2 separate regions of the Homo sapiens genome follow, and region 1 is linked to region 2. Evidence: fine-mapped expression QTL. A gene starts in region 2. The other region holds a variant in brackets. All regions are shown on one strand. Distances are from middle to middle. Region 1 overlaps OGT (O-linked N-acetylglucosamine (GlcNAc) transferase). Region 2 holds the start of OGT (O-linked N-acetylglucosamine (GlcNAc) transferase).

What was found.
Region 1: its variant is fine-mapped to the expression of OGT in whole blood (TOPMed, PIP 0.99).

What each region holds. Positions count from the first base shown.
Region 1 is chrX:71,557,709-71,563,045 of GRCh38, reverse strand. OGT (O-linked N-acetylglucosamine (GlcNAc) transferase) reads right to left here. Exons shown (of 22, transcript NM_181672.3): 13 at 3,621-3,779; 14 at 3,369-3,458; 15 at 1,146-1,271; 16 at 29-199. Among named protein-coding and RNA genes, the nearest start is that of GCNA, 18 kb to the left of the region's middle. The variant C/T (reference allele first, on the strand shown) is at 2,464.
Region 2 is chrX:71,530,758-71,536,134 of GRCh38, reverse strand. OGT (O-linked N-acetylglucosamine (GlcNAc) transferase) reads right to left here and starts at 3,031. Exons shown (of 22, transcript NM_181672.3): 1 at 2,799-3,031. The coding sequence starts at 2,835. RefSeq lists enhancers at 2,457-3,115, 2,941-3,280, 2,781-3,980.

The sequences.
Region 1 (5,337 bases), 27 kb before region 2:
TTCGTCCATAGCACTGTTTCATACCTACCTTCAGGTGAGGGAACATATTAGCATGATCACCAATAAAAAAAGTGTGGGGCATATAAGCCAATTTCTCGGAATACTGCTCAGCAACTTCAGCTGGCGAAGTTTCCTGATCAGTGATAATATAATCCATGAAAAGCGCACCACTCGTCCCAGGGTATCCCAGCCACATTGCCTTAAAAAAATCAGATCAAAAACTGATTAAGAACTTTTATCAGTACACTTACCTCTAAATTCATCAAGTCACATACATTAAATATGTACAACTTTTTGTATGTCAACTGTACCTCAATAAAGTGGTTTTTAAAAAAAGAACCTAAAGGTGCCAAAATTAAATAAGTAAATAAACAAGGAGGTCTAACTCTTTTTTAGAGACAGGATCTCACTCTGTTCCCTAGGCTGGAATACAGTGGTGCAATCGTAGATCACTACAGCCTCAAACTCCTGGGCTCAAGCAATCCTTCTGCCTCAGCCTCCAGAGTAGCCAGGATTACAGGCACTTGCCACACGCACAGCAAGGCTGACTTCTTTAGCCGAAAGCAATGAAGCAGTTCTATAAGAGAGACTCTTACTCTGTCACCTGGGCTGGAGTGCAGTGGCATAGTGATAGTTCACTGCAGCCTCAAACTCCTAAGCTTAAGCAATCCTTCCACCTTAGCCTCCCAAATAGCTGGGATCACAGAGGCACACCACCACTCTGGCTAATTTTTTAATTTTTTGTAGAGATAGGGTGTTTTGCTTTGTTGCCCAGGCAGGACTCAAACTCCTGGTTTCAAGAGATCCTCCTGCCTAAGCATCCCAAAGTGCTGGGATTACAGGCGTGAGCCACCATACCCGGCCTGTATTTCAGACTAACTTTCAAAATGCTAAAATGTTCTTCAAATTTGCAAGACAGAGTAACTGTTCATAGCCAACCATGAATTGCATGTCTCTATATACATGTACCTATAAGCACTGTGCTCTACACTCTTTTTGTCCTGTGCATTTCAACAACTTAAAAAAATTAAAAGTATGTCTGCCCTACAGTTTCAAATATCAGTTAACCAGAGGGAGGAAAAGCAGCACCTCACTGTATTCTTAGCCAAATACATGTTATAAGTGATGACTGTTAATTTGTTTACCTGAATAGGAGCTGGCCTGAGAGCAAAAAGCTCATTTCGAGCGCCCTTAGTATAGCCATTCATATTTACAAGGATATGAATTCCATCCTGATGGATGCGATCAGCTGCTTTTCCATTGCATGGAATCTACAGAATACAAAATAAGAACTCACTATGTATAATCTCAGATCAATTAGTTTTAATGACATTTAGTTTTAATGGCATTTAGTTTTAATGGCATTTAACATAATTCAGATTCCCAGATGGAAAAGAGGTAAGAACACAAATTAACTACATTAATTCGGGCACAAATATGGTTGACTGTCATTAAAATGGGCCCAAAGCATTAAAGAAACAGAACACAAAGGAAGGAGAGTTCACTTCTGGATTGAATGTATGAATAACAACATATCACAGAGAAATTGGTATTTGAAATTTGTAATCTTTTTTTTTTTTTTGGTAGGGATGGGGTCTCACTATGTTGCCCATGATGGTCTCAAGCAATCCTTCCACCTCAGCCTCCCAAAGGATTATACACGTGAGCCACAGCACCCAGCCTAGAATTGGTATTTGAAAATAGGTCTTCAAAGACGAATAGGAGTTTGAAGGAGTTTAACAGAATACAATCTCAGTAGAGAACAGTATGAATGAAGAACTAGAGTAAAGTGTGAGGGAGTTTAGAAAATGGTGAGTAGGCCGGGCATGGTGGCTCACATCTGTAATCCCAGCCCTTTGGGAGGCCGAGGCAGGTGGATCACCTGAGGTCAGGAGTTCGAGACCAGCCTGGCCAATGTGGTGAGACCCCGTCTCTACTAAAAATACAAAAATTAGCCGGGTGTGGTGGCAGGCGCCTGTAATCCCAGCTACTCGGGAGGCTGAGGCAAGAGAATCGCTTGAACCTGGGAGGCAAAGATTGCAGTGAGCCGAGATCGTGCCACTGCATTCCACCCTGGGCGACAAGAGCAAAACTCCATCTCAAAAAAAAAAAGGGTGAGTAATTCACTTCTATTTAGTATAGGGTATACAAGATGTTGAATGGTGAGTTAAAGTATTGACAAAGTTGTGGCAAACAGAGAAAGGTTACAAAAGCTATGCTGAAGAGTTTAGACTGCAATCAATCAGCAGTGAGTCCCTAAAGGTCTCAGAGGTAGAAAGAGGTATGCTTCTTGGTCACAAAGAGTCCAACTGTGTATCAAAAATGGCCAGGTATACTTTTGAAGCAACAGCTATACTGCAAAATTTGTTAGTACATACTATTTATTAAATGAGAAGTCTCAAAACCTTTCTGCTAGGACTTCAGTGATTCATATATATATACACATACACATGTATATTTATA[C/T]ATATATGCATACATATCATACCTGCATGTGTATGTACATACATACATGTGTGTACACACACATATAAAGAGTATATTATCTCTATTAGTCAAAGTGGCTAATAGAGTCTACAAAGAAAACACTGTAGCCTACATACTCAGCAAATTAATTCCCCCATAGGTTTCAATCTTAATTTATCATAAAACTTACTCTCCTAGAGGATACAACAATAGAACAAGTACAGAAATAAAGATAACCAAAGGCAAAGGCCCATGGAAACTGATGAACCATAGTTCATCTATTTTTTCTTTTTTTTTTTTTTTTTTTGAGACAGAGTCTTGCTCTTGCCAGGCTGGAGTGCAGTGGTGCGATCTCAGCTTACTGCAACCTCCGCCTCCCGGGTTCAAGCGATTCCCCTGCCTCAGCCTCCCAAGTAGCGGGGATTACAGGAATGCACCACCACACCCAGCTAATTTTTTGTATTTTAGTAGAGACGGGGTTTCACCATGTTAGTCAAGATGGTCTCATCTCCTGACCTCATGATCTGCCCGCCTCGACCTCCCAAAGTGCTGGGATTACAGGCATGAGTCACCACACCCGGCCCTATTTTCTTTAAAAGACCTATTTATTCTTCTCCCAAGTCACCATTTTGTCAATATTTATTAAGTATCTTCTGTCACAAGTGCTGGCTCAATCTCCAGAAAAGTTGTATGTCCAAGCACAAGCATAACACATTTCAGTTTCATTTGCAACCTCGGAAAAAGCCATGCTGATTAACACAAATGATCAAGGAAATAAGATCAACACAATTGCCTATATGTGGTACTACAGCATTTAATACTTATCATCAAAAATAAACTATATGCTAATAGTTTTATTTAAACTTGCTCAAAATAAAAAGTTAAAGTATGAGAGTTTCATCTACCTGAGAAAGATCAATGAAATGATTGGCTTCTGCCATCACCTTCACTCGGAAGTTTGTGCCATCGTCTGGGCTCAGGGCATAACAGAACACCTGAAAGGCAGCACATGGCATATTTAATAACATTGGCTCAAATCTTTCTGGCTCAAATCTTTCCAAAAGACACTAGGTTTCCATGCCTCATGGTGACAAGCCAACATTGTGGGTTTTTTCTTTTTTAAACAAATAGTGATTCTAGAGAAACACTAGTCTTACCTCAAATTTATCAGGATTGTGCATGCCTGGAATAGACTGCATAAGGTGAGAAGTAGGATGATTCCCAAAGTCGGAACTCACATATCCTACACGCAGCCGACCATCACTGAGCTTCAAGTCTTTTGGATGTTCATATGGTGGTTTATGAAGAACATTAATCTATCAACAGAATCCAATGCTTGTTAGTAAAATCTACATAAATTTTCATCTAGGAAAACTGACGAAAAACACACCAAACCTATACCTCACACCTGTTGAAAAAGGTCTGCCCAGAGCATTTAGTTAATATTGCCAGAGAGATGCAACCTCAGCACTTTATGTAATATGCTTCATACTTTGACCTGCTCCTGAGATCTATAAAGCATGAGCAAATCCCAGCGCTCTGGGAAGCCAAGGAGGTGGATCGCTTGAGGTCAGGAGTTCGAGACCAGCCTGGCCAACACAGTGAAATCCAATCTCTACTAAAAAAAAAAAAAAAAAAAAAATTAGCTGGGCGTGGTGGCACATGCTTGTAGTCCCAGCTACCTGGGAGGCTGAGGTGGGAGAATCGCCCAAACCTGGGAGGTGGAGGTTGCAGTAAGCCAAGGTTGTGCCACTGCACTCCAGCCTGGGCAACAGAGCAAGACCCTGTCTCAAAAAAAAAAAAAAAAAAAAAAAAAAGTACGAGCAAATCTAACACTTGTAGGTATGAAGCAGTATGGACAGAGCATGGTTTCCTCCCGCATTTTAGAAAATTCTATAGGGAAACATTTTCTAAAAACAAAATTATGGCTGGGGGCAGTGGCTCATGCCTGTAATCCCAGCACTTTGGGAGGCTGAGGCAGGTGGATCACCTGAGGTCAGGATTTCGAGACCAGCCTAGCATGGCAAAGCCCTATCTCTACTAAAAATACAAAAATTAGCCAGGCGTGGTGGCACACGCCTGTAATCCTAGCTCCTCGGGAAGCTAAGGCACGAGCATCACTTTAACCTGGGAGACAGAGGTTGCAATGAGCTGAGATGGCACCACTGCACTGCAGTCTGGATGACAGAGACACTATGTCTCAAAAAAAAAAAAAAAGTACACCTAGCACTCCAATCTATTATCCAACCTTTGATCCAATCCTTGATCAAGTACTGCTCTAATTCTCAAAGGTGAATACAAAATACCAAGCACTCCATTAAACATGATGGCTGGCCAGGCGCGGTGGCTCACACCCGTAATCCCAGCACTTTGGCCGGGCGAGGTGGGCAGATCACTTGAGCCCAGAGGTTCAAGACCAGCTTGGGCAACATAGCAAAACCCCATCTCTACAAAAAACACAAAATTAGGTGTGGTGGCATGCGCCTGTAGTCCCAGCTACTCAGGAGGCTGAGGTGGGAGGATCACCTAAGCTCGGGGAGGTCAAGGCTGCAGTAAGCCATGATCACACCGCTGCACTCCAGCCTGGGCGACAGAGCAAGACCCCGTCTCAAAAAAAAAAGAAAAAAAAGATAAAAGAAAAAAAAATTATGGCTTTCAACTTAAAGAAAAGTACCATCAGTCTATCATTAGTGTTTAAGTGAAGGAGTTAAGGATTCCGTCTTATGAAGTGCAGGGGGTTATACTCAGGACACAATGGAAGGGGTTCTGAAGTGGCCCACAAAAGTTTTATTTCTCGACTTGGGTGGTGTTCACTTTATAATCGTTCATTAAGCCACAGATTTGATTTTTACAGTTTTCTGTATTTGTGTTTTA
Region 2 (5,377 bases):
AAAAAGTTAGAAATGTAAACCAAAAAAATGTAAAAATATGGTATATTTAACTTAAAAATGGAAATGCTTGAAACTATGTAAAGCACTAGAGTGTTCTGCACGTTATGTATATCTTCAAGTTAACATCAAGTGCAGAATTGGCATTTTTAGAATTCACCCATTAATACTTTCTTTCCCAAACTAGAAAGGAATATTTACTTCCATATGAGATTACATTTTATGACCAAAAATACTTTGTACTTTTAAATTATAAATCATAGGTAGCATCTAAGGATTCACTGAACATTATTCCTTATACCTTAGTTAACATACAGAAACAAAATATTAAACGTGTGATTTGCAAGGTCACAAAGACTTAATAATATCAGAATAACATATTGGGAAACGTAATATTTTGTGCCATATTTCAGGTTGGATTTGTTGAGGTGGAGTACTGGTAACAATCTATCAATCTTAACCTCAGTGAGGACACCAGATGTGTTAATTCTTTAAATTATATCAATTTTTGTATATTTCAGAATTTAATTCTTTAAAAGGACAAGTAGAAACGAGCCTAAGGGAAAAACCAAAAAGTCAAAGTGCTATTTTTAAAACAGCTGATAAACAAGATGTTTGTCATTTGACAACAGCCAAAATAGTTAAAGGGGTCATCAAACATTTTAAATAAAGACCCAAGATTACACTGCTCCTCTACCATCCCAAACTCAAAAGGAGACTAAATTGGCTAAATCCCACCCACGTTGGTTTAGCACTAACATTTTCCAAACAGCTCTGGTATTGACTAAAGGATTAAGACATTGCAAACAAGCCTATATAAGCCAGGCAGTTACCTGCAACTGCAATGGTCAAAACGTTGGGAGGGAGGGAGGATGGACGCTAAAATATATTTGATAAAGCGCAACATAATGAATAAATAAAAGCACTTCGCTGCAAGTGACTTAATCCAGATACATAAAGATCTTTAAAGGATATAGCTAAAGCCCAGAGAGGGAAAAAAAAAAAAAAAAAACTGCTTGTCACAACTGTAAATACTTAAACTGGGAATTCGACCGTAGCACTTCACTAGCTGGTTGAAATGGGAAACCATGGACAAATTATTTAATTCTACCAAGGTTAAGGTGACTAGTTCAAATTTGAGCCCAGCTCCCCAATCATCAGAGCTGATGAGCGTTCCGGATACTGAGGAAAGCAAAGTAAATTTCCTGACAGAATGCACAGCTGACCACCAACACAAAGAGCATTGAGACTTGCATCCACATCTGGGAGAGGTTATATCTTTAATAGAAACTAAAATTACATTTTAGCTAAGTCTCTAGAACTTCCTAGCTCCTTGTTTTCACACATTACTTTGTCACTTTTCAATGCCGCTTATCTGCTATTTTAACACTTGAAACGACAGCTTTCTCAAATAAATAACACATTAAAAAGGGCAAGCTAGTACAGAATCCAGTACAGAATCTTAAACCTTTGAAAATCACGGTGGAGACGTGGGGAGAGGAGCACGGACTAATTATTAATCCCACTCCCTACAATTACGGATAAGACACTATTGACGATTCACCTACTACTTACAGCACAACTTCCAGGAACAGTAGCTAAAACCCTCCACACATCTCAACTGAGAAACAACCAAAAAATAACCTCGCGGGAAACCTCAGAAGCGCAGCCCAATTCCCCACCCCCTTCCGCCCAAATCGCCTCAATATGGAAAGGCAGCTGAAGGACACTCCTACAATTTGGTTGTTTTCGTATTTTCAGTACCAAATGCTCGCGACTGAAGTGTCTAAAAGGGCAACCGCCTTGTACTTGTGCAGCTACACTCCAGTTGCTTTACAAACTCTTCAAGCAGGGATGGAAACTTAAAAGAATATTACACCCTGTGAATAAAGAGATACTGGGCTGAAGAATGGGGATGGCAGACCCAGAGGCGGCGGCGGAGGAATACATCGAGAAAGTAACACAAAGCGAGAATTGGGCGGGCAGGGTGGTCAACGCCAAAGCAGCAGCATCGGGGTGGTTTCTCCCCCAAGGATAGGAAGTGAACAGGGCTGGCAACCTCGCGAAGGGAAGGGTGTGGTTCCCCGCGGACAGGGTGGGAAATCCAGGCTGAGGGCAGCGGTGGAATTGGGCGATGGCAAAGGAAACCCCTGGAAATTTCCAATCTAAACCGGGACCGCTCAACCGAAAGAACACCAGAAAGGCACTGCCTAGCAGGGTGCTGCTCAATGTCCCCTCTTCTCGAGGTGACTTGTGGCACCATCGACGAGCTTTTGATCGTCCTCGGGTGATGCAAAGTGAGGATATGATTACATCGGAACGGCACCCCCGCCCTAGATTGGCAGAGAAGGACCAAATCTGGCTAAGGGGAAAAGACTGGGGGGGGAGATGAAGGAGGAGATGGAGGGGAAAAAGGAGAGGCGATGAGCTGGAATTAGGGGAGAAAACCGCTGCAAAGGAGTGAAAGGGCAGGGATTCCAATGCAGTCCATTCCACGACATTCTAAGCGCGCACGTGTGATAAAAGCGCCTGGAGAGAGTGGAATGCTAGAACATTTACGAAATAAAAACAAAGCAAGAAAGGCAGCAAAAAGCAAGCAAGGGAGGAGGAGGAAATGTTCGGGAAGCGGACAACAGCGGAAAACCCGATGTGATCAGATGCCAGTAGACCACGAAAAGCTTAGCAATGTCACTGATGTAATGGGGATGGTTCGAGGGAAGGGAGGGAAGGAGTGATACAAGGTAGAGGACGGCGCGAGACCCCAAGGGGGCATCTGCCAAGGTAGAACGGGACACCGGTACCTGTGCTGTCGGCCACGTTGCCCACGGAAGACGCCATCTGGAGCTTCTCGAGGGAGAGCAAAAAAGAGGTAATTGGTCCTGCTGCCGCCACTACCAGCAAGAACGTATTTGGAGGTAGTAGTACAAGGGCAGCAGCCGTAGCAATGCTCTGGAGGGCTTGAGCGGCGGCAGCAGTTACAGGCTTCAAACCCTGGGAACTCTAATTGACCATCTACCTAGTACGGTCTTGAAATGGCGGCGACGGCTCCTCGGCCGAAACAACATGGGCCGGAACTACTTTCTGTTACAATCAAGTGCCCGCGCGGAGGTAGCCGGTAACCAGCGCCGCCAACAAAATGACTTCAAGCTGCAAAGTCGAGATTCCATGTAGTCCTCCGCGCAGCGCCCATTGCGACAAACACCACGGTGGAGACCGCGCATGCGAGCAGCCCTGTCAACCCGACTCGTGGTTAGGGCACTCTCTGGGGCGGAAGCGGCCAAGTTTCTTAAGAGTGTAGCGGAAGGGTAAAAACAAACACACACGGGACGGATACGTTTTTGCCACCGCGATTAAGAAGAGTGTTTGTTACTTAGCAGGTGGTGTCGTTTTAAACATAAATGCCAAAGGCGTCTAAAAAAGTTTATCAACTGTATTCGTACAAAAACGGATGGTTACGACTCTCACGGATCAATTCTGAGCCAGTCAATTCAGAAGATTGCCTCTCAAAGACAGCTGCTCAAAACGAGGAGCGAGAGGGTTCCGATTTGAGCCCGTCTTCATTGTGACTCGGCCATCGATTTCAGCACTTCGATGAAAAAGACTGAAGCTTTCACAGGGCCAGTTGAATGCAGACACCTTCAATGTTGGCCGTATAGCCTGAAATTTCAAAATCGTTTTGGTATTCAGAATACTCCTGCCCACGGTGATAGGGCAAATGTTTAATAACTCAGGGACATGCTGGGCGTTTGCACTCCGAAGGCAGCCATAAAAATGTTAAAGGTGATTCACGTTCGTCAAAATCCATGACTCTCCTCGAGTTGTGACTTCATTTCCACCAGCTAGCTCTGCACATTGTCACAGTCGGCGATTCCACTGAGCTCAAAGCAGATCAACAATGATAAATGAATTCACTTGCCATCTGCCTAAACCACACGTCTAGATTGAGTCATGAATTGCCTCTACTTCCTTGAACAAATCGGTTCTTACGATCTTCCTGCAGTTTCAAGTCTACTGTTCAGACATTTTGTCACATTGGTATTTATACTTCACCTCTTGTTCTAGAAACGACTTAAGGTAGCTTGCCACATCAGCAAGAAAGTATTACAAGCCACTGGAGGCTACAAGTTGGATCTCTGAGAGCCTTTTTATTTCAAAAAGTCCTTGATCTAAGAAAGCAGGTCAATGAATTTCTTCAAAAAGTTTTTGCTACCTAGCCCCTTCACTACATTTTTTAAAACTAAGTCCTCAAATTCTGCTTAAATTTCTTCAAAACAGTCAACAAACAATTAATTATGGAAATGGCACAGAGAAAATTCATAATGCTAATTTCTTCCATCCCATAATCAAGAGTCACATCATGCAGTGAAAAAGACAAAAATCACTACACAAACTCTCCTGAAAATTGAGCACCAACCTCTTGTAATTTGATTTAACTGGTAAAACCTCCCCCCCGCACACACACACCTACTACAAGTTCCCTATCTGTAATGAGTAAACTCAGCTTTTCAACTTTTAGAAGAGACTTCTCAGATTCCACTGGCAGATGTTTAGGCCTTGCTGATGAGCGGGTGCTAGCTAATTAACAAAAACTCTTTTTGTTGTTAAATGCAGGTCATGTTCCTAATTCTTCAGCCAATAAGTAACATTTACTAGAGTCTCTATGTGCAAGGCACTGTGGGGGGCACAAAAATGAACAGAAATCCTCGCCCTCAAGGAATCTGAAGCCTAGTTAGGTAGACACAAAAAGCTACTAGAGAGCAATACAGAAGACTATTTAGATGATAAAATATATTACTCTCTATGAATATCTAGGGAGGAAACAGGTAAGGTTGGAGGGGGTGAGAAAGAAGCCTTGATCTAGACATTGAAGGAAGTGCTTTTGTATGTTTTTTATTGTTGTTCACATTGATTTCTGGGTTTTTTTTATGTGCAATTTTAAATTTAGAACCAATTATAATTAAATCAGCTGGGTCTTCAACCCCAATCCCAAACTTTGTCACCCAGTAACACCACTGATGTTGCATTACTTTTTTTGCTGCTGTGTAACAAAGTATCACAAATACAGCTGCTCAGAACAACACACATTTCACAGCAGTAGCACCAGCGCTGGATGAGACCCGGGCTGGTGGCTGCTGTTGCACTGCTGCTGAAAAAAAATGGCTCCAAAGGTTAAATGAAGCCAAAGAAATACATAGATGTGAGAGGAGAAGCCAGCTGGACTTCCTGGGTTGGGTGGGGACTTAAAGAACTTTTCTGTCTTACAAGAGGATTGTAAAATGCACCAATCAGCACTCTGTAGCTAGGATTGTAAAACGCACCAATCAGCGCTCTGTGGCTAGCTAGAGGTTTGTAAAATGCGCCAATCAGTGCTCTGTAAAAA